2 separate regions of the Homo sapiens genome follow, and region 1 is linked to region 2. The links come from fine-mapping of genetic effects on plasma protein levels. A gene starts in region 2. The other region holds a variant in brackets. All regions are shown on one strand. Distances are between the middles of the regions.

The links. PIP is the chance, under the fine-mapping model, that this variant and not a neighbour inherited with it causes the effect. The UK Biobank Pharma Proteomics Project read protein levels with antibody pairs (Olink). The fine-mapping took linkage between variants from a reference panel, not from the people measured, so its PIPs are less certain.
Region 1: its variant is fine-mapped to the plasma level of the VMO1 protein (UK Biobank, PIP above 0.99).

Annotation. Positions count from the first base shown.
Region 1 is chr17:4,760,545-4,771,899 of GRCh38, forward strand. TM4SF5 (transmembrane 4 L six family member 5) reads left to right here and starts at 11,342. Exons shown (of 5, transcript NM_003963.3): 1 at 11,342-11,355. RefSeq lists a silencer at 3,520-3,682. The variant T/C (reference allele first, on the strand shown) is at 7,727.
Region 2 is chr17:4,779,708-4,791,176 of GRCh38, forward strand. VMO1 (vitelline membrane outer layer 1 homolog) reads right to left here and starts at 6,657. Exons shown (of 3, transcript NM_182566.3): 1 at 6,451-6,657; 2 at 6,230-6,345; 3 at 5,578-5,952. The coding sequence starts at 6,645. The coding sequence ends at 5,655. TM4SF5 (transmembrane 4 L six family member 5) reads left to right here. Exons shown (of 5, transcript NM_003963.3): 2 at 1,082-1,162; 3 at 2,796-2,932; 4 at 3,147-3,330; 5 at 3,407-3,504. The coding sequence ends at 3,421. It overlaps GLTPD2 (glycolipid transfer protein domain containing 2), which reads left to right and starts at 9,257. Exons shown (of 4, transcript NM_001014985.3): 1 at 9,257-9,410; 2 at 9,519-9,583; 3 at 9,804-9,970; 4 at 10,052-10,882. The coding sequence starts at 9,305. The coding sequence ends at 10,589. RefSeq lists a silencer at 10,064-10,713 and an enhancer at 10,944-11,023.

The sequences.
Region 1 (11,355 bases), 19 kb before region 2:
TTTGGTTTATTATTATTATTATTATTTATTTATTTTTTTTAATAGAGACAGGGTTTCACCATGTTGTCCAGGCTAGTGTTGAACTCTTGGGCTCAAGGGATCTACCCACCTCAGCCTCCTAAAGTGCTGGGATTACAGGTGTGAGCCACCACACCTGGCCTTTTGTTTGTTTTTGTTAGAGACAGGGTCTTGCTCTGTCACCCAGGTTGGAGTGCAGTGGCACAATCACAGCTCACTGTAACTTGCAACTCCTGCCCTCAAGCAATCCTCCCGCTTCACCCTCCCAAAGCACTAGGATTACAGGCATGAGCCACCATGCCCAGCCCTACTGGAGCTTTGTAGTAAGTCTTGATGCTGGGTCGTGTCAATCTTCCAACTTTGCTCTCTTTCAATATTGTGTTGGCTATTCTGGGTCTTTCGCCCCTCCAGACAAACTTTAGAATCAGTTTGTAAATATCCATGAAATGGTTTTCTGGCATTTTGATTGGGATTGTGTTGAAGATACAGATCAATTTGGAAAGAACTGACATCTTGACAATGTTGAGTGTTCCTATATATGAACATGGACTCTCTCCATTTATTTATATCTTCTTCGATGTCTTTCATCAGAGTTTTGTAGTTTTCTTCATGTAGATCTTATACGTATTTTGTTAGATTTATATGTAAGTATTTAATTTGGGACAGTGCTAATGTAATTGGTACTGTGTGTTATTTGAAGACATTATAAACAGCAATTCAACTCAAGAAGTGTAGTACCAGTAGGGTTCACAACTCAGCTGAGGTGATAACAATACGAACAGCTACGACTGGGTTCTCACAAGTGTAGGCAAAACCTACCATGTTGTATGACACCATGGATTGTACAATATATCCTAATTTTGGGAAAAATAAAATGTGCTAAAACACGTGACTTAGAATTGATTGGCCAGGTGCAGTGGCTCACACCTGTAATCCCAGCACTTTGGGAGGCCGAGGCGGGCAGATCACTGGAGGCCAGAAGTTCGAGACCAGCCTGGCCAACATGGTGAAACCCCATCTCTACTAAAAATACAAAAAATTAGCCAGGCGTGGTGACACATGGCTGTAGTCCCAACTACTCAGGAGGCTGAGGTTTTAGTGAGCCAAGATCACACCACTGCTGTACTATAGCCTGCGTGACAGAGTAAGATTCTGTATCAAAAAAAAAATTTGAAATATGCTAAATATTTAACAAATAGGCCAAGCAGGTGGCTCACACCTGTAATCACAACACTTTGGGAGACCGAGGTGGGTGTATCACCTGAGGTCAGGAGTTCGAGACCAGCCTGACCAACACGATGAAACCCCATCTCTACTAAAAATACAAAAAATTAGCTGGGCTTGGTGATGCGCGCCTGTAATCCCAGCTACTTGGGAGGCTGAGGCAGGAGAATCACTTGAATTCGGGAGGTGGAGGTTGCAGTGAGCCCAGATTGCACCACTGCACTCCAGCCTGGGAGTGAGACTCTGTCTCAAAAAAAAAAAAAGAAAAGAAAAGAAATAAACGTCACTGACTCAATTTCACAGTATTCTCATAACCAATTTAAAGTCTAGAAACCACTGGAAAATTTTCCATTTTTCCCAGTTTATATCCTAGGAGAAAGCAAATCTAATTGGCCTGGACACTCAGCTTATGGTACAGTTTACAAATTTCTGGTAACTTCCACTGCTTTAAACGAAGACTGAAATTACCAATGTCTCAAATAGAGTAGAAGTTTATTTCTTGCTCACAAAATAGTAACGAGGCTGCCGGGCCCGGTGCTTCACGCCTGTAATCCCAGCACTTTTTGGGAGGCCGAGGGGAGTGGGTCATTTGAGGTCAGGAGTTCGAGACCAGCCTGGCCAACATGGTGAAACCCCGTCTCTACTAAAAATACACAAATTAGCCAGGTGTGGTGGTGCCCACCTGCAATCCCAGCTAGTTGGGAGGCTGAGGCAGGAGAATTGCTTGAACCCAGGAGGCAGAGATTGCAGTGAGCCAAGGTCGCACCACTGCACTCCAGCCTGGGCAACAGAGCGAGACTCCGTCTCACAAAATAAATAAATAAATAAATAGTAAGGAGGCAGGTGGCCCACAGCGGCACTCCTGCTCTTCTAGGTTGTTCGGGAGCCCAGAATCCTGATATTGTTGTTCCACCATCTCTAAGGGTTGTCCTCACCAAAGAGTCCAAACGGTTCAACTCCTGGCCTACATTCCAGCCAGCAGGATGAGGAAAGGGAAGCTCATTCCTTAAAGTCTACCACCAAAGTTGATTGTTGCAGCCATTAAAAAAGAACAAATTCATGTCCTTTGCAGCAATATGGATACAGCTGGAGGCCATTATTCTAAGCCAATTAACACACGAACTGAAAACCAAATATTGCATGTTCTCACTTACAAGTGGGAGCTAAGCACTGGGTGCACATGGACATAAGGATGTAAACAATTGACACTGGGGCCTCCAGAGGGGAAGGGAGAGAGTGGGGAAAGGGTTGAAAAAACTACTGGGTTCTGGCCGGGTGCGGTGGCTCATGCCTGTAATCCCAGCACTTTGGGAGGCTGAGGCGGGTGGATCACCTGAGGTCAGGAGTTTGAGACCAGCCTAGTCAACATGGTGAAACGCCATCTCTACTAAAAATACCAAAATTAGTCAGATGTGGTGGCATGCGCCTGTAATCTCAGCTACTTGGGAGGCTGAGGCAGGAGAATCGCTTGAACCCAGGAGGCCGAGGTTGCAGTGAGCCGAGATCGTGCCACTGCACTCCAGCCTGGGTGACAAAGTGAGACGCTGTCTCAAAAAAACAAAAAACCAAAAAAACTACTGGGTCCTATGCTCAGTACCTGGGTGACAGGATTAATCATGTTCCTAAACCTCAACATCACACAATATACCCTTATGACAAACCTGCACATGTACCCCCAAATCTAAAATAAAAGCTGAAATTATAAATAAATTGAATACTTTGTTGTGGGGATCTCATAAAACTTACAGAAAACATCTGCATTATGCCTTAAAACCAACATTGCAGTAAGGTAAGATCAACTAGCAGCATTCTCACAAAAAGGAAACAAAGTTGATCAAATCATTTACACTCCTTCCCATAAGCCATAACTATGTGACAACGCATGGCCACAGCTACAAAAGAAGTTAGAAAAAATAGGGTTTTTTTGTTGTTGTTGTTGTTTTGACACGGGGTCTCGCTCTGTCGCCCAGGCTAGAGTGCATGCAGTGGCATGATCTCAGCTCATTGCAACCTCCGCCTCCCAGGTTCAAGCGATTCTCCTGCCTCAGCCTCCGGAGTAGCTGGGATTACAGGCATGTGCCACTACGCCCGGCTAATTTTGTATTTTTATAGAGATGGGGTTTCTCCATATTGGTCAGGCTGGCCTCAAACTCCCAACCTCAGGTGATCCACCTGCCTTGGCCTCCCAAAGTGCTGGGATTACAGACGTGAGACACCACGCCTGGCTAATTTTTGTATTTTTAGTAGAGATGAGGTTTCACCATGTTGGCCAGGCTGGTCTCAAACTCCTGACCTCAGGTGATCCACCCGCCTCAGCCTCCCGAAGTGCTGGGATTACAGGCGTGAGCCACCGGGCTTGGCCGAAAATATAGTCTCTAGCTTAGCAGCCATGTGCCTTTAGCAGCAGACTACAAAGTCTGCTACTATAATAAAAGCAGAAGACTGGGACTAACTCACTATCTCTGTCACATACTAGGTCAAGCATGTGCTACTCAGCTATGGGCAGTGAGTACGGAGCCACAGAGTTTAGACAGATTCCCTGGAGAGGATATTCGCTGGATGCCTCCCCATCATTCATTCTGTCTTTCCTCCTTCCTAATACTGCCCTTAATTTCCCAGCCTGGTGGCTTAGACAGAATTGACAACACCCCCTGTGCTGGAATGCCTCCATGTGAAGAAGGACATGTTTGCTTCCCCTTCCGCCATGATTGTAAGTTTCCTAAGGCCTCCCCAGCCATGCTAAACTGTGAGTCAATTAAACCTCTTTCCTCTATAAAGTACCAGTCTCGGGTATGTCTTTATTAGCAGCGTGAGAACAGACTCATACAGCATGTTCTACCCTCTGGCCACAGTGATCCGTGTAAGGGACAGACATAGAACCCAGTCTGCACCAAGGAGAAATTTTCTGGGGTAAATGGGAAAGAAACTTCCTCTCTACTCAGGGAAAGCTATGCGAGGAGATTCTCTTCCTCCTGGTGGTAGGGTGTAAAGACATAAGGTCTGAACTGCTGCAGCTAATACTACTGTCAGGAGGAAGATCCCACTTAAGGAGGAAGTCAAAGCCAAAAAAAGGAACAGCAGAGAGAATGGCAGAGAAACAAGAACACTGATGACATCCTGAACTTCTGGACCAAACTGCACCTGCAGTTAGTCCTACTTCAGTCCTACTGGATGTTTTGATTGCTTGAACCAATAAATTCCCTTTTTGTTGCAATAGAGTTGGGTTTTCTGTTACCTGGTATAGTTCCTTACAATGGACCCAGAGTATGGCAAGCAATAATGACATATTTAATAGTATTAATATCATTTTTAGAATTTACATTATACAGCTGCCCTTTAAAAGAATTTTTTTTTTTTTTTTTTTTTTTGAGACAGAGTTTTGCTCTTGCCCAGGCTGGAGTGCAATGGCGCGATCTTGGCTCACTGCAATCTCCACCTCCCAGGTTCAAGCGATTCTCCTGCCTCAGCCTTCCCAAGTAGCTGGGATTACAGGCATGCGCTACCAAGTCCAGCTAATTTTGTATTTTTAGTAGAGATGGGGTTTCTCCATGTGGGTCCGGCTGGTCTCAAACTCCCGACCTCAGGTGAGCCGCCTACCTCGGCCTCCCAAAGTGCTGGGATTACAGGCGTGAGCCACCACGCCCGGCCACTTCAAAAGAAATTTTTACGGGGCTAGGTGCAGTGGCTCACGCCTGTAATCCCAACACTTTGGGAAGCCTATGTGTGCAGATTTCTTGAGCCCAGGAGTTCAAGACCACTTGGGCAACAAAATGAAACCCCATTTCTACAAAAAATACAAAATGATGGCTGGGCTCGGTGGCTCACACTTGTAATCCCAGCACTTTCGGAGGCCGAAGTGGGCGGATCACCTGAGGTCGGGAGTTTGAGACCAGCCTGACCAACATGGAGAAACCCTGTCTCTACTAAAAATACAAAATTAGCCGGGCGTGGTGGCACATGCCTGTAATCCTAGCTACTAGGGAGGCTGAGGCAGGAGAATCGCTTGAACCTGGGAGGCAGAAGTTGCAGTAAGCTGAGATTGCGCCATTGCACTCCAGCCTGGGCAACAAGAGTGAAACTCTGTCTCAAAAAAAATATATATATATATATTTACATATATACACACAAAAAGATTAGACAAGCATGGTGGGTGGTGAACATCTGTAGTCCCAGTTACTTGGCAGGCTGAGGCAGGACGATCACTTGAGCCCAGGAGATAGAGTTTGCAGTGAGCCAAGATCATGCCACTGCACACCAGTCTGGACAACAGAGTGAGACACTGTCTTTAAAAAAAAATGAGACTGGGCACAATGGCTCTGGCCGGGTTGTGGTGGCTCATACCTGTAATCCCAGCACTTTGGGAGGCCAAGACAGGTGGATCACTTGAGGTCAGGAGTTCAAGACCACCCTCCAACATGGTGAAACTTAGTCTCTACTAAAAATATAAAAATTAGCCAGGCCTGGTGGCCCATGCTTGTAATCCCAGCTACTTGGGGGGCTAAGGCAGGAGAATCGCTTGAACTCAGAAGGCTGAGGTTGCAGAGTCAAGATGACGCCACTGCACTCCAGCCTGCATGACAGAGCAAGACTCTGACTCAAAACAAAAGAGAAGAAAAATATTTTTTTCCAAAATGTGCATCCAGTTTTGTAACCAGATATATGAAATTTATTTAGACTTACGTCAAGACTTCCCCATTTTGGGGTTTTTATTTTACTTCATCTCTTGGTGAGTCAACACAATTTCTCTAAAAAAAAGGAGCCAAAGTGTTATTTTGAAATCCAAACATTCTCAGAAATGCAATTGTGTTGCCCTTAACATACAAAATGCAACTTAGACATGTATATGATAGTTCTACCTTTTTTGGTGGACACAGCTGCCTTACTCCTTTGTCCTCTGACATTCAGTATTTCAGAGAAGACTCTGGCCACACCAACTATTGTTTCTTTCTAAGTAGCCTTTTTAAATTCTGCCTAGATGTATCCTTTAATTCAGATATTTTGTCAGGATGAATCTATGGTCAGCTGACTTTTAATATTTTACCTGCCGTGCAGTATAACTTTCAACCCACTGACCTGAGTGGATCTATCTGCGCTCAGTGACGTCTTCTCCTAGTGCAGATGTTTTAACTGTGGTGTCACTTCCACCAGTTCTATTCTTGTTCTTAGGAGAAGCCAGTTTCCTGAATTTTTTTTTTTTTTTTTTTGAGCCAGAGTCTCACTCTGTCACCCAGGCTGAAGCGCAATGGCGTGATCTTGGCTCACTGCAATCTCCACCTCCCGGGTTCAAGCGATTCTCCTGCCTAAACCTCCTGAGTAGCGGGGATTACAGGCACCCGCCACCATGCCCAGCTAATTTTTGTATTTTTAGTAGAGACGGGGTTTCCCCATGTTGGTCAGGCTGGTCTCGAATTCCTGACCTCAGGTGATCTGCCCGCCTCGGCCTCCCAAAGTGCTGGGATTACAAGCGTGACCCACTGAGCCTGGACCTTTTTTTTTTTTTTTTTTTTGAGATGGAGTCTTGCTCTGTTGCCCATACTGGGGTGCAATGGTGCGATCTCGGCTCACTGCAACCCCCACCTCCCGGGTTCAAGCGATTCTCCTGCCTCAGCCTCCTGAGTAGCTGGGATTACAGGTGCCTGCCATCACACTTGTCTAATTTTTGTATTTTTTGTGAAGATGGGGTTTCGCCATGTTGGCCAGGCTGGTCTCAAACTCCTGACCTCAGGTGATTCACCGAGCTTGGCCTCCCAAAGTGCTGGGATTACAGGCGTGAGCCACCGCGCCCGGCCAGCCTTTTCTTTCTTAAGTTATTCTGTTCCTAGTTCCAGGAGAATTCTAGTGATGTCATCAAAAATCTTCCTGGAAATCTCTTCCAAATCCTATAGTAAATGTTCCTCCAGAGGATTCTGTTTCTTTCAGTCTTCAGGTTGATTTGCCCTTCCCTGGTTTTGAGAAAATTTTTCAGAATCCCTATAATGTTTTGTTAACATTATTAACATTATTTCATTCATCCAGAATTGTATAAAAATAATGTAATGAATGCCTGTGGACCACCCCACCCACACAACTATTTTTTTTCTCTTTATTCATCCTCAAAACAGACACCATTTGGCTGGCCGCAGTGGCTCACACCTGTAATCCCAGCATTTTGGGAGACCGAGGTGGGTGGATCACCTGAGATCAGGAGTTCGAGAGCAGCCTGGCCAACATGGAGAAACCCTGTCTTCATCTCCACAAAAAATACAAAAATGAGCCAAGCGTGGTGGCGGGCACCTGTAATCCCAACTACTTGAGTCTCCTGAACCCGGGAGGCGGAGGTGGCGGTGAGCCGAGATCACGCCACTGCACTGCAGCCTGGGCAATAAGAGTGAAACTCTGTTTAAAAAAAAATAAAAAAGAGGCACCATCTCTCAGAATCAGCTTGAGCAACTTGTAGACAAATAGGTGGCCAGCTCTTGGCCCTGCTCTCTGTCCATCAGATCAA[T/C]GGCTGAATCCCCTCTTCAGGTCCACGGTTGGAAGGGCCACTATTCGGGATATGACAGTTGCTCTGGTAGTTCAACATTAGTGCTGGTGACAACCTCTCATCGGCCACCTCCTGAGGAACCAGAGTTTTCCAGTGCCTGTGCTTCTCCCTCTGGCGCTGTTTCAGAGTAACTATTCTCCATACACTTCTCTTGCTGTGACTTCTGCTTATTTCTGGTGTCAGTTGCCTCTGGCTTTTGATTGCTTCTTTCTTGCATACAACTCTCAGTTTGAAGCCACCCCACTCTCTGATGACTGTCTCAGCTTGTCTCACAGACACATTTCCCAATCATGAAGATCCAGTCGGTGGATTGGTCATTATCCAGTCAGTGTACCTCTGTTGGATGGAGTTCTCACCTCGAGAGACCTCACAGGTCGCTGGCTACATGTCTGCCTTTGGGTCAGCTACTTGTTCCTCAATCAACCAGCCCTGGCCTAGATAAGGGGGTCTGTGTTAGGAACTTGTTACTGGGCAACAAACCATCCCCCTCGACGAAGTCTTAGTGTCAAATAAATATAAGCATTTATTTCACTGATACACACATAGGAGTTGGCTGGGGGTCAGGTGATCTAGGGTGGGATCCAATGTGACCCTTTTCCTTGTATCTTTTTTTTTTTTTTCTAGATGGAGTCTTCCTCTGTCACCCAGGCTGGAGTCCAGTGGTGCAATCTCGGCTCACTGCAACCTCCATCTCCCGGGTTCAAGCAATTCTCCTGCCTCAGCCTCCCGACTAGCTGGGATTACAGGTGCCTGCCACCACACCCAGCTAATTTTTTTTGTATTTTTAGTAGAGACAGGGTTTCACCACGGTAGCCAGGATGGTCTCGATCTCCTGACCTCATGATCTGCCCACCTTGTCCTCCCAAAGTGCTGGGATTACAGGCGTGAGCTACTGCGCCCGGCCAAAAGAAATTTTTTAAATTAGTTGAGTGTGGTGGTGTGGGCCTGTAATCCTGGCTACTAAGGAAGCTGAAGTGGGAAGACAGCTTGAGCTAGGAGGTCATAGCTGCAGCGAGCCATGATTATCTTACCATGGCACTCTAGTCTGAGTGACAGAGACCCTGTCTCAAAAAAAAAAAAAAAAGGATAATGTAAAATCTTTAAAGAAAAGGGACAGAGGCTGGGCGCAGTGGTTCATGCCTGTAATCCCAGCGTTTTCGGAGGCCGAGGCGGGGATCATCTGAGGTCGGGAGTTCGAGACTAGCCTGGCCAACATGGAGAAACCCCGTCTCTACTAAAAATACAAAATTAGCTGGGCGTGGTGTCGCATGCCTATAATCCCAGCTACTCGGGAGGCTGAGGCAGGAGAATTGCTTGAACTTGGGAGGTGGAGGTTGCAGTGAGCCATGATCGCACCACTGCACTCCAGCCTGGGCAACAAGAGCAAAACTCTGTCTCAAAAAACAAAAAAGAAGAGGAACAGAAAACATCAGAAGCAATATGGAAATGTTGTTTAAAGCATTAAACATGCCAACAGAAGCAAAACCAAATGTATCAGTCATCATAATTACCTATGAGTCAGAGACAAATAGTTGGGGAGGTTCAAAGTATTTTCTTTTTCAGGCATCCTCTGATTCAAGAGGTAAATTCTCCATGTATTTTTCTCAATCCAGTTCCTCTGTCTTATAAATAGCAGAGATTCTGGCTTTTCTCCATTTTCCACATTTCTGTAGTGGTCTGAGTGGGCCGCAAGGAGGGGCTGCATCAGGGGCCACTGGCTGGTGACACTTTCCAGGTGACAGCCTCATTGCATACCCTCTGAAGCCCTGCAGCCCTTCCTGCTACCCTCATCTCTTCATGGCACTCCCACATCCTACTTGAGCTAGGGCTCATTCTGTGGGGGCCTTCACTCTCCTGTTTGCTTCTGAGACCCAGGAGGCAGAGGTTGCAGTGAGCCGAGATCACACCACTAAACTCCAGCCTGGGTGACAGAGCAAGACTCCATCTCAAAAAAAAAACAACAAAAAACCATTAGCCAGGTGTGGTGGCACACACCTATAGTCCTAGCTACTCGGGAGGCTGAGGTGGGAGGATCACTTGAGCCCAGGTGGTCAGGGCTGCAGGGAGCCATGATCCACTCCACACCAGCCTGGGCAACAAAGGGAGACCCTGGTCTCAAAAACATTTTTTTAATTAAAAAAAAAAGAAGTCGACTGGGTGGCTTGGCTCATGCTTGTAATCCCAGCACTTTGGGAGGCTGAGGCAGGTGGATCATTTGAGGTGAGGAGTTTGAGACCAGCCTGGCCAACATGGTGAAACCCCGTCTCTACTAAAAATACAAAAATTAGCTGGGTGTGGTGGTGGGCGCCTGTAATCCCAGCTACTTGGGAGGCTGAGGCAGGAGAATCGCTTGAACCCAGGAGGCGGAGGTTGCAGTGAGCCAAGATCACGCCACTGCTCTCCAGCCTGGGCGGCAGAGTGAGACTCCGTCTCAAAAAAAAAAGAAGTTATCAAGGAAACTGCAGCACCCCAACAAAAACAGAACTTCTTTGACCTCAGAATGGAAAAATGGCAGAAGCTGATTCTCACAGAGTTGGCTCAGATCGCATGGCTGTTGCTAAATCAAACACCGAGGCTAGCAGGATAGAACGCTCTCATCAATGAGGCCTAGGTCCCGAGCCCACCCTGAGAGACAGGCAGTGGCCTCAAGAGGAGGAGACATCAATAATCAAATACCAGGAAGACGAAATGCAAGGACAATAAGAGCCCACAATCACCTCTTTAATTTCTCCCTGGGAAGAATGCTGCCTGAGAGGCTGGCAGAAACGAAGAGGCCACCACACATCTGCTCTGTGCTTCCTAGTTTACAAAATACTTCTCAGGTTGTCCCATTTAATCCTCACAAGTAGCCCACAAGGCAAGTGGCATCACTTATTTATTTATCTATTTATTTATTTATTTATTTATTTACTTTTTGAGACAGAGTTTCATTCTTGTCACTTTATTTACTTATTTATTTATTTTTCGAGACAGAGTTTCACTCTTGTCACCCAGGCTGGAGTGCAATGGCACAATCTCAGCTCACTGCAACCTCCACCTTCCAGGTTCAAGTGATCCTCCTGCTTCAGCCTCTCGAATAGCTGGGATTACAGGTGCCCGCCACCATGCACAGATAACTTTTGCATTTTTAGTAGTGACGGGGTTTCACCACGTTGGCCAGGCTGGTCTCAAACTCCTGACCTCAGGTGATCCACCCTCCTCGGCCTCCCAAAGTGCTGGGATTACAGGTGTGAGCCACCGTGCCCAGACACAAGTGGCAACTGAGACTTAAGAGACATGAAGGGGCTTGGCTAAGTTGCAAAGCAGGTATGGAACCAACAGAGGGGCTGTGGAGCTGTGCAGAAAAAACAGGAAGGCACTAACCCAGGGTAATGTGTCCATAGCCCCCACCTTGTCCAGCACCACATCCTCCCTTCACCTCAGGGCTGCAGCTCCTCCGCCTCTGCCTCCTCAGGGCCCACATCCTGTGCCTCTCTCCCTTATCATTCTGATCCTGCCAGTTTCTGCCACGCCTCTGTCTGAACTTTGCTCCGTGCTCCAGGCTTGTTTTCCTCTGGACCTGGGAACCACTGGCTTACTTTCACTCACCG
Region 2 (11,469 bases):
GGGAGATGAATTTGAGGAATATTGTGAGATGAGCGTGAGGCTGGTTGAATTTGAGCTAAAACCAAGATATTCAAGTGAACATAGGATCTGGAGGCATCAGTTTTGGAGGCAACTTCTGGCAGAGTGAAGAGCTGATTCCCTGAAAGGGGATGGGCATTGTTAGGAAAGCCACAGGGAGAAAAAAAGACCAAGGCTTGAATCTTGGAAAATGCTACACTCCATATCAGACCATCCACTAGCACTCTTCCACACTCTACTGTAATCCCAATTCACCAGACACTCCAACACCTCTATCCCTTCCTGCTGCTGAGGGAACTTATAAATATTGAGTTACTCTGAGCTGGTCTTTTTTTTTTTTTTTTTTTGAGATGGAGTTTCGCTCTTATTGCCCGGGTTGGAGTACAGTGGCACGATCTCAGCTCACCACAACCTCCACCTCCCAGGTTCAAGTAATTCTCCTGCCTCAGCCCCCCGAGTAGCTGAGATTATAGGCATGCGCCACCACGCCCGGCTAATTTTGTATTTTTAGCAGAGTTGGGGTTTCTCCATGTTGGTCAGGCTGGTCTTGAACTTCCGACCTCAGGTGATCCACCAGCCTCAGCCTCTCAACATGCTGGGATTTCAGGCGTGAACCACCGCGCCCGGCCTCTGAGCCAGTCTTAACACCTAGTCAGCTTGTTCTCCCATTAAATCCTGAGAACAGACCTGTGAGGTAGATCTTCCAGACCCATTTTATACAGGCAAAACTGAGACCCTGAGAGATGAATCAATTCATAGCATGTGAAGTAGTTTCCCTGATTTCCATTCAGTAGGGCACCTACTATGTGCCAAGATTGGGGAAAATAATGATATTGGGCCCTACCCTCTAGAGGCCACAATCTGGACAGAGATAAGGTAGGCACGTAAATAAGGATAAAGTAAGGTGAAGCCCAGCAGCTCCAGGAGACGTAGAGATAAGGTCTTCTACAGTCCAAAGGGCTGAAGGCATCACAGGCAGCTTCCTGAAGGAGGTAGGCACTGATGCAAGTCAGGCCTGGAGGATCTGGGGGGACGTGCTATAACAATGACTCTTGTCCCACAGGTACTGTGTCCGGGGATTGCAGCCGTTCGGGCAGGGGGCAAGGGCTGCTGTGGTGCTGGGTGCTGTGGAAACCGCTGCAGGGTAAGATCCAGATTAAGAAGGAATTCAGGGCTGGGGGTGGTGTCTCATGCCTGTAATCCCAACACTTTAGCAGGCTGAGGTGGGAGTACGGCTTGAGCCAGGAGTTCTAGACCAGCCCAGGAAACATGGCAAGATCCCTATCTCTACTAACAATACAAAAATTAGCCGGGCGTGGTGGCAAGCACCTGCAATCTCGGCTACTTGGGAGGCTGAGGTGGGAGGGCCGCTTGAGCCCAGGAGGTCCAGGCTGCAGTAAGCAGTGATTTAAAAAAAAAAAAAAAAAAAAAAAAAGAAGAGAAAAGATACAGAAATTAGCCAGGCGTGGTGGCGGGCACCTGTAATCCCAGCTACTCAGGAGGCTGAGGCAGGAAAATCACTTGAACCCTGGAGGCAGAGGTTGCAATGGGCCGAGATCACACCATTGCACTCCAGCCTGGGCAACAAGAGTGAAACTCTGTCTCAAAAAAAAGAAAAGAAAAGATACAGAAATTAGCCTGGTGTGGTGGTGGGCGCCTGTAATCCCAGCTACTCAGGAGGCTGAGGCAGGAGATTACGGTGAGCCAAGATTGTGCCATTGCATTCCAGCCTGGGCAACAAGAGCAAAACTCCGCCTCAAAAAAAATGTATTTTTATTTTATTTTACATTTATTTATCTTATTTATTTTAGACATAGTCTTGGTCTGTCACCCAGGCTGGAGTACAGTGGCACGATCTTGGCTCACTGCAGCTTCCGCCTCCCTAGTTCAAGCCATTCTTGTTCTTCCAGCCTCCCAAGTAGCTGGGATTACAGGCGCCTGCCACCACACCCAGCTAATTTTTATATTTTTAGTAGAGACGGGGTTTCACTGTTGGCCAGAGTGGTCTGAAACTCCTGGCCTCAGGCGATCTGCCCCCCTTGGCCTCCCAAAGTGCTGGGATTACAGGTGTGAGATATCGTGCCCAGCCTCGAGTCAGGTTTAAAATAAATTTCCCTTCAAACCCCGGGCTTGCAGTTAGGCTAACCTGAAAGCCAGCGGCCGCCGAGATTCACTGGGGTTGTAGTTCCCCCCTCTCCCCTTCACCCGCCTACCCCTCAGGATCATTGAGATCTGAGATTTGTGGGTGCCAGGGAAGGGTGGGGTGGGGCCTGGGAGTCCGCAGAGGAGCTTGTGTAGCTAGGAATTCCATAGAGAGTGCTGTGGTTCTGCAAGGACAGGTGCAGAAACAGAGTCCGAATTTCTAATTTTTTTTTTTTTTTTTCTTTTTGAGACGGGGTCTGGCTCTGTCGCCCAGGCTGGAGTGCAGTGGTGCGATCTCGGCTCATTGCAACCTCCGCCTCCCATGTTCAAGCTATTCTCCTGCCTCAGCCTCGGGCATGTGCCACCACACCCGGCTAATTTTTGTATTTTCAGTAAAGACAAGGTTTCTCCATGTTGGCCAGGCTGGTCTTGAACTCTCGACCTCAGGAGATCCACCCGCCTCAGCCTCCCAAAGTGCTGAGATTACAGGGGTGAGCCACCGCGCCCGGCATTAAAAAATACATTTTAACAACCCGACTGGAGCAGATTTCGATAATGCGTGGGGGCTGGCGCTGAGCGTCGTCACCCACAGGTGGGGAGATTGGGCCTTACCTCCCCTTCCACACCACATCCAGATGCTGCGCTCGGTCTTCTCCTCGGCGTTCGGGGTGCTTGGTGCCATCTACTGCCTCTCGGTGTCTGGAGCTGGGCTCCGAAATGGACCCAGATGCTTAATGAACGGCGAGTGGGGCTACCACTTCGAAGACACCGCGTAAGGTTTAGCCTGTATTCGTGTCCTCCATTCTCTGCCTCTTCCCTCCCGCCCTTCCCCCGTGGACTGGGACACCTGGGCGGGACTCGACTTCGAGGGCACTCGCTCCACGTGGGCTACCTGGGCCTTAGCAAATCCCCTGGGACGTATTCTTGGGGGCGGGGTGGCGCACGCGCACGCTGCCTTCTCCCACGTGGCCTCACCCCTCCCACAGGGGAGCTTACTTGCTCAACCGCACTCTATGGGATCGGTGCGAGGCGCCCCCTCGCGTGGTCCCCTGGAATGTGACGCTCTTCTCGCTGCTGGTGGCCGCCTCCTGCCTGGAGATAGTACTGTGTGGGATCCAGCTGGTGAACGCGACCATTGGTGTCTTCTGCGGCGATTGCAGGAAAAAACAGGTGAAATTTCTTGCGGTGGAGTTGTAGAGGGAACCTGCCTGGTCCTGGCTGCGTTCTCACCTTCTCTTTTCCGCAGGACACACCTCACTGAGGCTCCACTGACCGCCGGGTTACACCTGCTCCTTCCTGGACGCTCACTCCCTTGCTCGCTAGAATAAACTGCTTTGCGCTCTCTTCTCTGTCTGAGATTGTGCCTTCTGTAAGGAGGAGTGTGCGAGAGGCTACGGATACACCTGGCCTTTGGGGCCCCTGCACCCCACTTGTACTTTCTTAACGAATAGATACTGAGCTATTTGGTTGCGCTGGAAATAAGGACGGTAAACAAGACAGACAAGTTTTATTCTCTCAAAGAACTTGGCATTCCAAGAGTGGAAGATAGGCAATTTTTAAAAGAAGCAAAAAATTATTTCAATAGGTAATAAGCACTTTTTTTTTTTTTTTTTGACAGGGTCTCGCTGTCACTCAGGCTGGAAGGCCGTGGTACGATCTCGGTTCACTGCATCCTCCACCTCCTGGGCTCAAGCAATCCTCCCGTCTCAGCCTCCCAAGTAGCTGGGACCATAGGCATATGCCACCATGCCTTGCTAACTTTTTTGTATTTTTTGTAGAGACGAGGTTGCCCAGGCTGGTCTCGAACTCCTGAGCAAAAGTAATCCTCCCACTTCAGGCTCCCAAAGTATTGGGATTACAGGCTTGAGCCACCGTGCGTGGCCGATAAGCACTTTTTAAAAGCATGTTGGTAATGGGATTGATATTGACTTATGGAGAGACTCTCTTTTATGACAGGGAAAATTTGAGAAAATGAAATTTGAGCTAAGATCAGGAAGGCTTGCTAACCATCTGGATATTTGGGGGATTATAGGCAGAGAGAACAGCAAGGACAAAGATCCTAAACAGGGATCAGTTCTGTAGGAGAAAATAATGAAAACTATGGAAAAGACACTGTAACCTCTTAAGCTCTAGAAAATGGAACTGTAAAGCCATTGTGGCCTTGTCACCTCCTAATTTGATAGAATTTTTTTTTTTTGCTTTTTTTGACAGGGTCTCACTTTGTCACTCAGGCTGGAGTGCAGTGGCACGATCTCGGCTCATTGCAGCCTCCACCTCCTGGGCTAAAGCAATCCTCCTGCCTCTGCCTCCTGAGTAGCTGGGACTACAGGCGCACACCACCATACCCCTGCTAATTTTTGTACTTTTTGTAGAGAGGGGATTTCACCATGTTGCCCAGGCTGGTCTCCAACTGCTGAGCTTAAACAATCCACCCACCTCAGCCTCCCAGAGTGCTGAGATTACAGCTGTGAGCCACCACATCTGGCCATAATTTGGTAGAATTTTCTTAATCTTAGGTCACTGGTTCAGAAAGGAGACAACCTAGGCACCTAATGGGGGCAGGGTGTCTGCAGACTCTCTCAGAAAGCCAGACTTCCTGGGCCCGCACGATGGTGCAAGCCGGTAATCCCAAAACTTTGGAAGGCTGAAGCCAGTGGATCACTTGAGGTCAGGAGTTTGAGACCAGCTTGGCCAACATGGGGAAACTCCATCTCTACTAAAAATACAAAAATTAGCTGGGCATGGTGGTGGGTACCAGTAGTCCCAACTACTCAGGAGGCTGAGGCAGAAGAATCGTTTGAACCCAGGAGGTGGAAGTTGCAGTGAGCCAAGATCATACCACTGCACTCCAGCCTGAGTGACAGAGTGAGACTCCAAAAAAAAAAAAAAAAAAAAAAGCCAGACTTCCATCACTTGTCTGAAAATTATCTGTTTAAGTGCGTTTTTCTCGAGTCCATAACTTTTCAGCAATCTACCATAGACCCCTGAGACCAAATCCAAATGTATGCCTCACCTAATGCTAAGTTAGGAGGGGAAAAGGAGACTCAGTTCCCCATCCCTTAAACAGGCGAGACCAGCCGGGCATGGTGTCTCACGCCTGTAATCCCAGCACTTTGGGAGGCCAAGGTGGGCGGATCATGAGGTCAGGAGATCGAGACCATCCTGGCTAACACGGTGAAACCCCGTCTCTACTAAAAATACAAAAAAAAAAAAAAAAAATTAGCCGGGCGTAGTGGCGGGCGCCTGTAGTCCCAGCTACTCGGGAGGCTGAGGCAGGAGAACGGCGTGAACCCGGGAGGCAGAGCTTGCAGTGAGCCGAGTGAGCCACTGCACTCCAGCCTGGGGGACAGAGCGATACTCCGTCTCAAATAAATAAATTAATAAATAAATAAATGAAATAAACAGGCGAGACCAAAGTCAACTCAGAGAAGCTTTAATAGCAAGAGGTGGGACTAGCCTCCTGGCCCGGGAGAGAGCGGCGGCGGCGGCGCCGTTCAACTGCGGCAGCAGAATAAGCGCGCGTCGTTCAGCGCAGTGTCATCGCCGAGGCCTCTAGGTCCCTGGATCTTGGTCTGCAGGCCGCACGCGCCCTTGGGGCAATGGTCACTCCAGTCTCCAAAGTCTCCCCAGCTCAGCCCAGGCCCCTGCAGTTCCTCGCCGTCTGAACAGCGGAAGCGCACGTTGTTCGCTGCTGTGTTGTCACCGAGGGTCGTGGGTGCCTCCACGCGAAGCGAGAAAGCCACTAGGTAGGCGCCGCCGCGACACCACAGCGGCTCACTCCATTCGCCCCAGCTGCAAGGCAAAGGGAGATGCGTTGCCTCTGCGGGCCCCCCATTCACCAAGCCCTTGAGACTTTCCAAGCCAAGTGCTGTGTATATGACCTGGTGGGCTGGGTGCTCCCCGACCTCCGCCGAGGAGCGGAGGAGGGGTCTTCCATCCACCCTTCGCCTCCCCGGTCTATACTGCCCCGTAGCTCTGGCGGAGCCAGCCTGCCTGTTGCGACGGAGTATGTAATAGAGGGTAAGGGACATACCATCACCCCAAGGGATCCTCGACCCCTGCGCCCCACCTTCCAGACTGGGACTCTACCACGTGCGTATTGCCTAGGACGTTCCCGCGCGCGCAGTGCAGCCTGATCCCATTCAGTGCAGTGTCGTCGCCAGGAATGCCTTGGGGAGGCTCCACCTGGGTATCGAGGAGAGGGGCAAGGGCGAGTCACGGAATTATCATCCTTGGCTCTATGGTCCCACGCATCTCCGCCCTCTCCAGGACCTACGCCTGAGCCCCAACCTTGAGCGAGAACCCGCTGGCGAAGAATCCATCGGGACACATCTCAGGCCAGGCCCAGTCGCCCCAGGGACCCCCGCTGGTCACTTCGATGACCGCCGTGTAGCCGTTCCGGCCATCTGTCTGTGCACATGTGAAACCAGTCGCCCGCAGAAGCAGCAGCAGCGGCAGCAGCTTGGCTCCTGCGCCCCGCTCCATCCTGTAGCGTCTGTGAATCAGGCCTCCTAAGCAGATTTATATCAGTTTGGCCTCTGTGAGGGCTCCGATTGCGGAAGGGCCTCCCAGATTAAGTGAAACCCAAAACTAATCCACTCCCGGAACCCTATTTCCTGCTCCCGGAGGCAGAGGCTCCCAGAGCTAGGGTAGGAGGGGCAGTGAGAGAGGGCGAATTAAAATAACCATCACCTACTGAATATTTACTATAGGCTACGAATTATGGTTAGCGCTTTGCAGTATTTTGTTTAACCCTCACAACAATTTTTGGGGGGTGAGAATTATCCTTCCTATTTTGTAGATGAGGGAACTGGCTCAAAAATGGCAAGCAACTTGCCTTAGGTTTACAGCCAAGCAAGCTGGGAAACATTCCAGCAGTGAGAGTGGAGACAGAGCAGAGACCAGGGCTAGGGATGGAAGTGACCTCCCGGGAGTCCCACCAGTGACGGGATGGGGCAAGAGCAACCCAGAGACCTCCAGGATGTGAGGGGACATCAGAGTGAGGATAGGACAAGAATCCTCGAACTGGAGAAGCTGAGAAAACTCCTGTCAGCTCAGAAGTCTCTTCCTCCTCTGAGAGGTCTTCTGAGAGCTCAGGGCCCTAACACCTTGAGAATCCGGGACACTCCTCCCTACCTTAGAAGAAGACATATACAAACAGAAATAATTCTTTTTTATTTTTATTTTTTGAGTCGAAGTCTCACTCTGTCGCCCAGTGGCGGCATCGCAGTGGCGCGATCTCGGCTCACTGCTACCTCCACCTCCTGGGTTCAAGCGATTCTCCTGCCTCAGCCTCCCGAGTAGCTGGGACTACAGGCGCGCGCCAAGACGCCGCCCCGCTAATTTTTGTATTTTTAGTAGAGACCGGGTTTCACCGTGTTGGCCAGGATGGTCTCTATCTCTTGACCTTGTGATCCGCCTGCCTCGGCCTCCCAAAGTGCTGGGATTACAGGCATGAGCCACCGCGCCCGGTCCAACAGGAATAACTCTAAGAAGTTTGGGGACAGGAGACTAAGAACCCCTAAGAAAAGATCATGCTGTTTCTTCCATTGCTTTCTGTATCCTTATATCCTTTCCTGGAATGCCTTTCCCCCTGTGACCACCAGATGGACTCCTAATTTGCAAAACAAAAAGCGAGAAAATCTGGCTAAGTATGTTTTTTGTTTGTTTGTTTGTTTGTTTGTTTTGAGACGAAGTCTCACTCTGTTGCCCAGGTTGGAGTGCAGTGACGCCATCTCGGCTCACTGCAACCTCTGCCTCCCGGGTTCAAGCGATTCTCTTCCCTTAACCTCCCGAGTAGCTGGGATTATAGGCGTTCGCCACCACGCCCGGCTAATTTGTATATTTTTAGTAGAGACGGGGTGTTGCCATGTTAGCCAGGCTGACCTCAGGTGATCCGCCCACCTCGGCCTCCCAAAGTGCTGGGATTACAGGCGTGAGCCACCGTGCCTGGCCTAAAAATGCCTGGCTAAATTTGTTAGGGGCCACAACCCCAGATTTACCTGCCCCTCATACACACTCCTTTGTTTATTCAATACCTATTTAGCAATAATATGTTTTGGCTTAAGCAATATTCCACTTGCTGTAAGCAAGAATAACAAGGCCCCTGTCATCAGAGGTCACATTCCAGTGGGGGAGACAGAGGATAAATTCTCCCCCAGTGGACCTTGAGCTCTGTGAAGGCACTTTTGTATTCTTGAAGCCTAGTACGTGCGGAAGTACTTAATAAAAGTTGGTGCAATGAATGATTGAAGAGCCAATCTGGAGTTTTGAAAATTAAACCACAAAAATGCAAAAGGATAAAGCCTGACGTACGTATATGATTGCAAGAGGTCATGTATCCAGGTCAAGACAAAGTCCCCTGGGAATAAGATAGAGAATTTAGAAGTGGGTGTTCCCGGCTGGGCGCGGTGGTTTACGCCTGTAATCCCAGCACTTTGGGAGGCCAAGTTGGGCGGATCACAAGGTCAGGAGTTCGAGACCAGCCTGTCCAGTATGGTGAAACCCTGTCTCTACTAAAAATGTAAAAATTAGCCGGCACTTTCCAGCCTGGGCGACAGAGCGAGACTTTGTCTCAAAAAACAAAAAAACAAAAAACAAACAAAAAAAAAAAGAGAGCGAGAGAGAAGTGGGTGTTCCCTGGATCCCAGAGCCGGACAATGCTTGAACTTAATAAGATTTATAGGGCAATTGTGGTCAGCTTTTCCATTTAGTGTTTTCACATACGTTATCATTTAATCCTCACATGAGGCTTGCAAAGTACCTATTATTATCCTCAATTTACAGTGGAGGGAACTCAAGCCCAGAGTGAATTTAGGGCCCACACCACTGCTCAGTAGGGGAGCTGTTCTGGGCCCTGCCTCTCTTCCCAATACTCAGAGTGCCTCTTGCTACAGCTGGCCCTACAGGGAAGGGAAATGCACTGATCTGTCACTGCTGTCGAATCCCCCAAATTCCCTTCACCCAGTTCCTCGCACCCAGGGTAGCTGCCCTTTGGGGCGAAGGGCACAGGGGAAGGGGCCTTAGTAGGTTAATTATTAATCCTTTGCGCCTCAGGGCACCACGGGCTTCTGTCCCCTCCTGGAGGCGGAGGGACACGGACTGGCTAGGCGCTGGTGAGGGGGCGGCGGTCCCAGCAGCAGGCATGGGAGTGGCGGCGCGGCCCCCAGCCCTGCGGCACTGGTTCAGCCACTCAATTCCTCTCGCTATCTTCGCGCTGCTGCTGCTTTATCTCAGTGTTCGGAGCCTAGGTGAGCTGCCCCTTCCCTCACTTGCTCCGGGAGGAAGCCCGGAATCCAGGCCCTCACGACTCAAGCCTCTTTCTCGAGCCCTCACCGCTCCGCTTCTCCTCTACCCAGGCGCCCGCTCGGGCTGCGGACCCAGGGCGCAGCCCTGCGTTCCAGGGGAAACGGCGCCCTTCCAGGTACGCTAGGCGCAGGATTGGGCGCGGGCGCTCCAGGAGGGACCAGAACAGGGGGACGTGGAGCCAGGCTGAGGGTCCGGCAAAGGGCGGGTCCTCCCCCGGTCTACCCTCTCCCGTCGGAAGCTGAGCGCACAGCAGAAGAGCCGCCAGCTAAACCTTCGGAACAATTTCTTCAGGGCAGAATCTGCTCCCACCTCTTCCCATCGTGTCTCCCCACCAGGTCCGGCAGGAGTCGGGAACCCTGGAGGCCCCGGAGAGGAAACAGCCTCCGTGTCTGGGCCCTCGGGGGATGCTGGGCCGCATGATGAGGCGGTTCCACGCCAGTCTGAAACCCGAAGGGGATGTGGGGCTGTCGCCGTACCTGGCGGGATGGAGGGCACTCGTCGAGTGAGTGGCCTCCCGCCCCCCAGCCGGTCCCCGCCTCCTTGGCGGCTCCATCTCCATTCTCTCAAATCGTCTCGCCCGCAGGTTCCTGACTCCCCTCGGCTCCGTCTTCGCCTTCGCCACTAGGGAGGCCTTCACCAAGGTGACAGACCTGGAGGCTCGGGTGCACGGCCCGGACGCGGAGCACTACTGGTCGCTGGTGGCCATGGCGGCGTGGGAGCGGAGGGCGGGACTGCTGGAGCAGCCGGGGGCGGCCCCCCGGGACCCGACCCGGAGCTCGGGCTCTCGCACGCTGCTCCTGCTGCACCGCGCGCTGCGCTGGTCCCAGCTCTGCCTCCACCGGGTGGCGACCGGCGCGCTGGGAGGCCCGGACGCGGGCGTGCAGTGCAGCGACGCCTACCGTGCGGCCCTGGGTCCGCATCACCCCTGGCTGGTCCGACAGACCGCCCGCCTCGCCTTCCTCGCCTTCCCGGGTCGCCGCCGCCTGCTGGAGCTGGCGTGTCCCGGAGCCACCGAGGCGGAGGCGCGGGCCGCGCTGGTCCGGGCCGCCGGCACCTTGGAGGATGTCTACAACCGCACCCAGAGCCTGCTGGCCGAGCGCGGCCTGCTCCAGCTGGCCTAAGACGGCGGCTGCGGGGACCGGCGGGAACGGAGCGGACCGCCCGGGGTGGGGCCGCGCAGCCCGGGGTCAGTCCTGCAGCCCGCGCCGCGGCCGCCTCCGTATCCCGCCTCTTCCGTGACGTCGCCGCGGCGAGGGCCGCCCCCGGCAGGGAATGGCGTTGAGCTCCCTCTGTCCGCAGTCTCGGAAAGACGGGAGGAGCTGTGAGGAATAAAAAAGCAATATTTGGCAGCGTCGACGTAGGGCGTTTTGTGTGATGACGACAGGCGCTTAAGGGAAATAAAAAACGAAGGTGAGAAGATGTGTCATCTCTGTTCTCGGCAGCCGAGAGACTCACGCTCCCCCGGCCTATCGTAGTCACTCCCGTGGCTTCGGTTGCCAAACACACGCTGAGTCTCCAGCCCAGACTTGTCCCTGAGCTTCACCCCTGTGCAGCCAAGTGACTCCACGGCCACTCCCACAATGAACATGAAAGATCTTGCCATTTCATACACTGATAACTTCCAAATCACAACTTCAATCCACTTTCTCCTGGACTCCAGAATCCTACATATACGATTGCCTATTCGGTATTTCCACTTGGATGTCACCTAGGCATAGCAAACCTACCATGTCCAACACTAAGCTCCAACACGCCCTCCCCACGAAAATTCTCCCTTCATAGTCTTTGCTGGCTCAAATGACACTTCATTCTTCCAGGTCCTCAGACCAAAAACCTCGTCATCCAGACCCTTCTGGGTTGTTTTTTCGTTTTGGTTTGGTTTTCTTTCTTTTTTTTTTTTTTTTTTCTGAGACAGAGTTTCTCTCTTGTTACCCAGGCTGGAGTGCAATGGCGCGATCTTGGCTCACCGCAACCTCCACCTCCCGGGTTCAAGCAATTCTC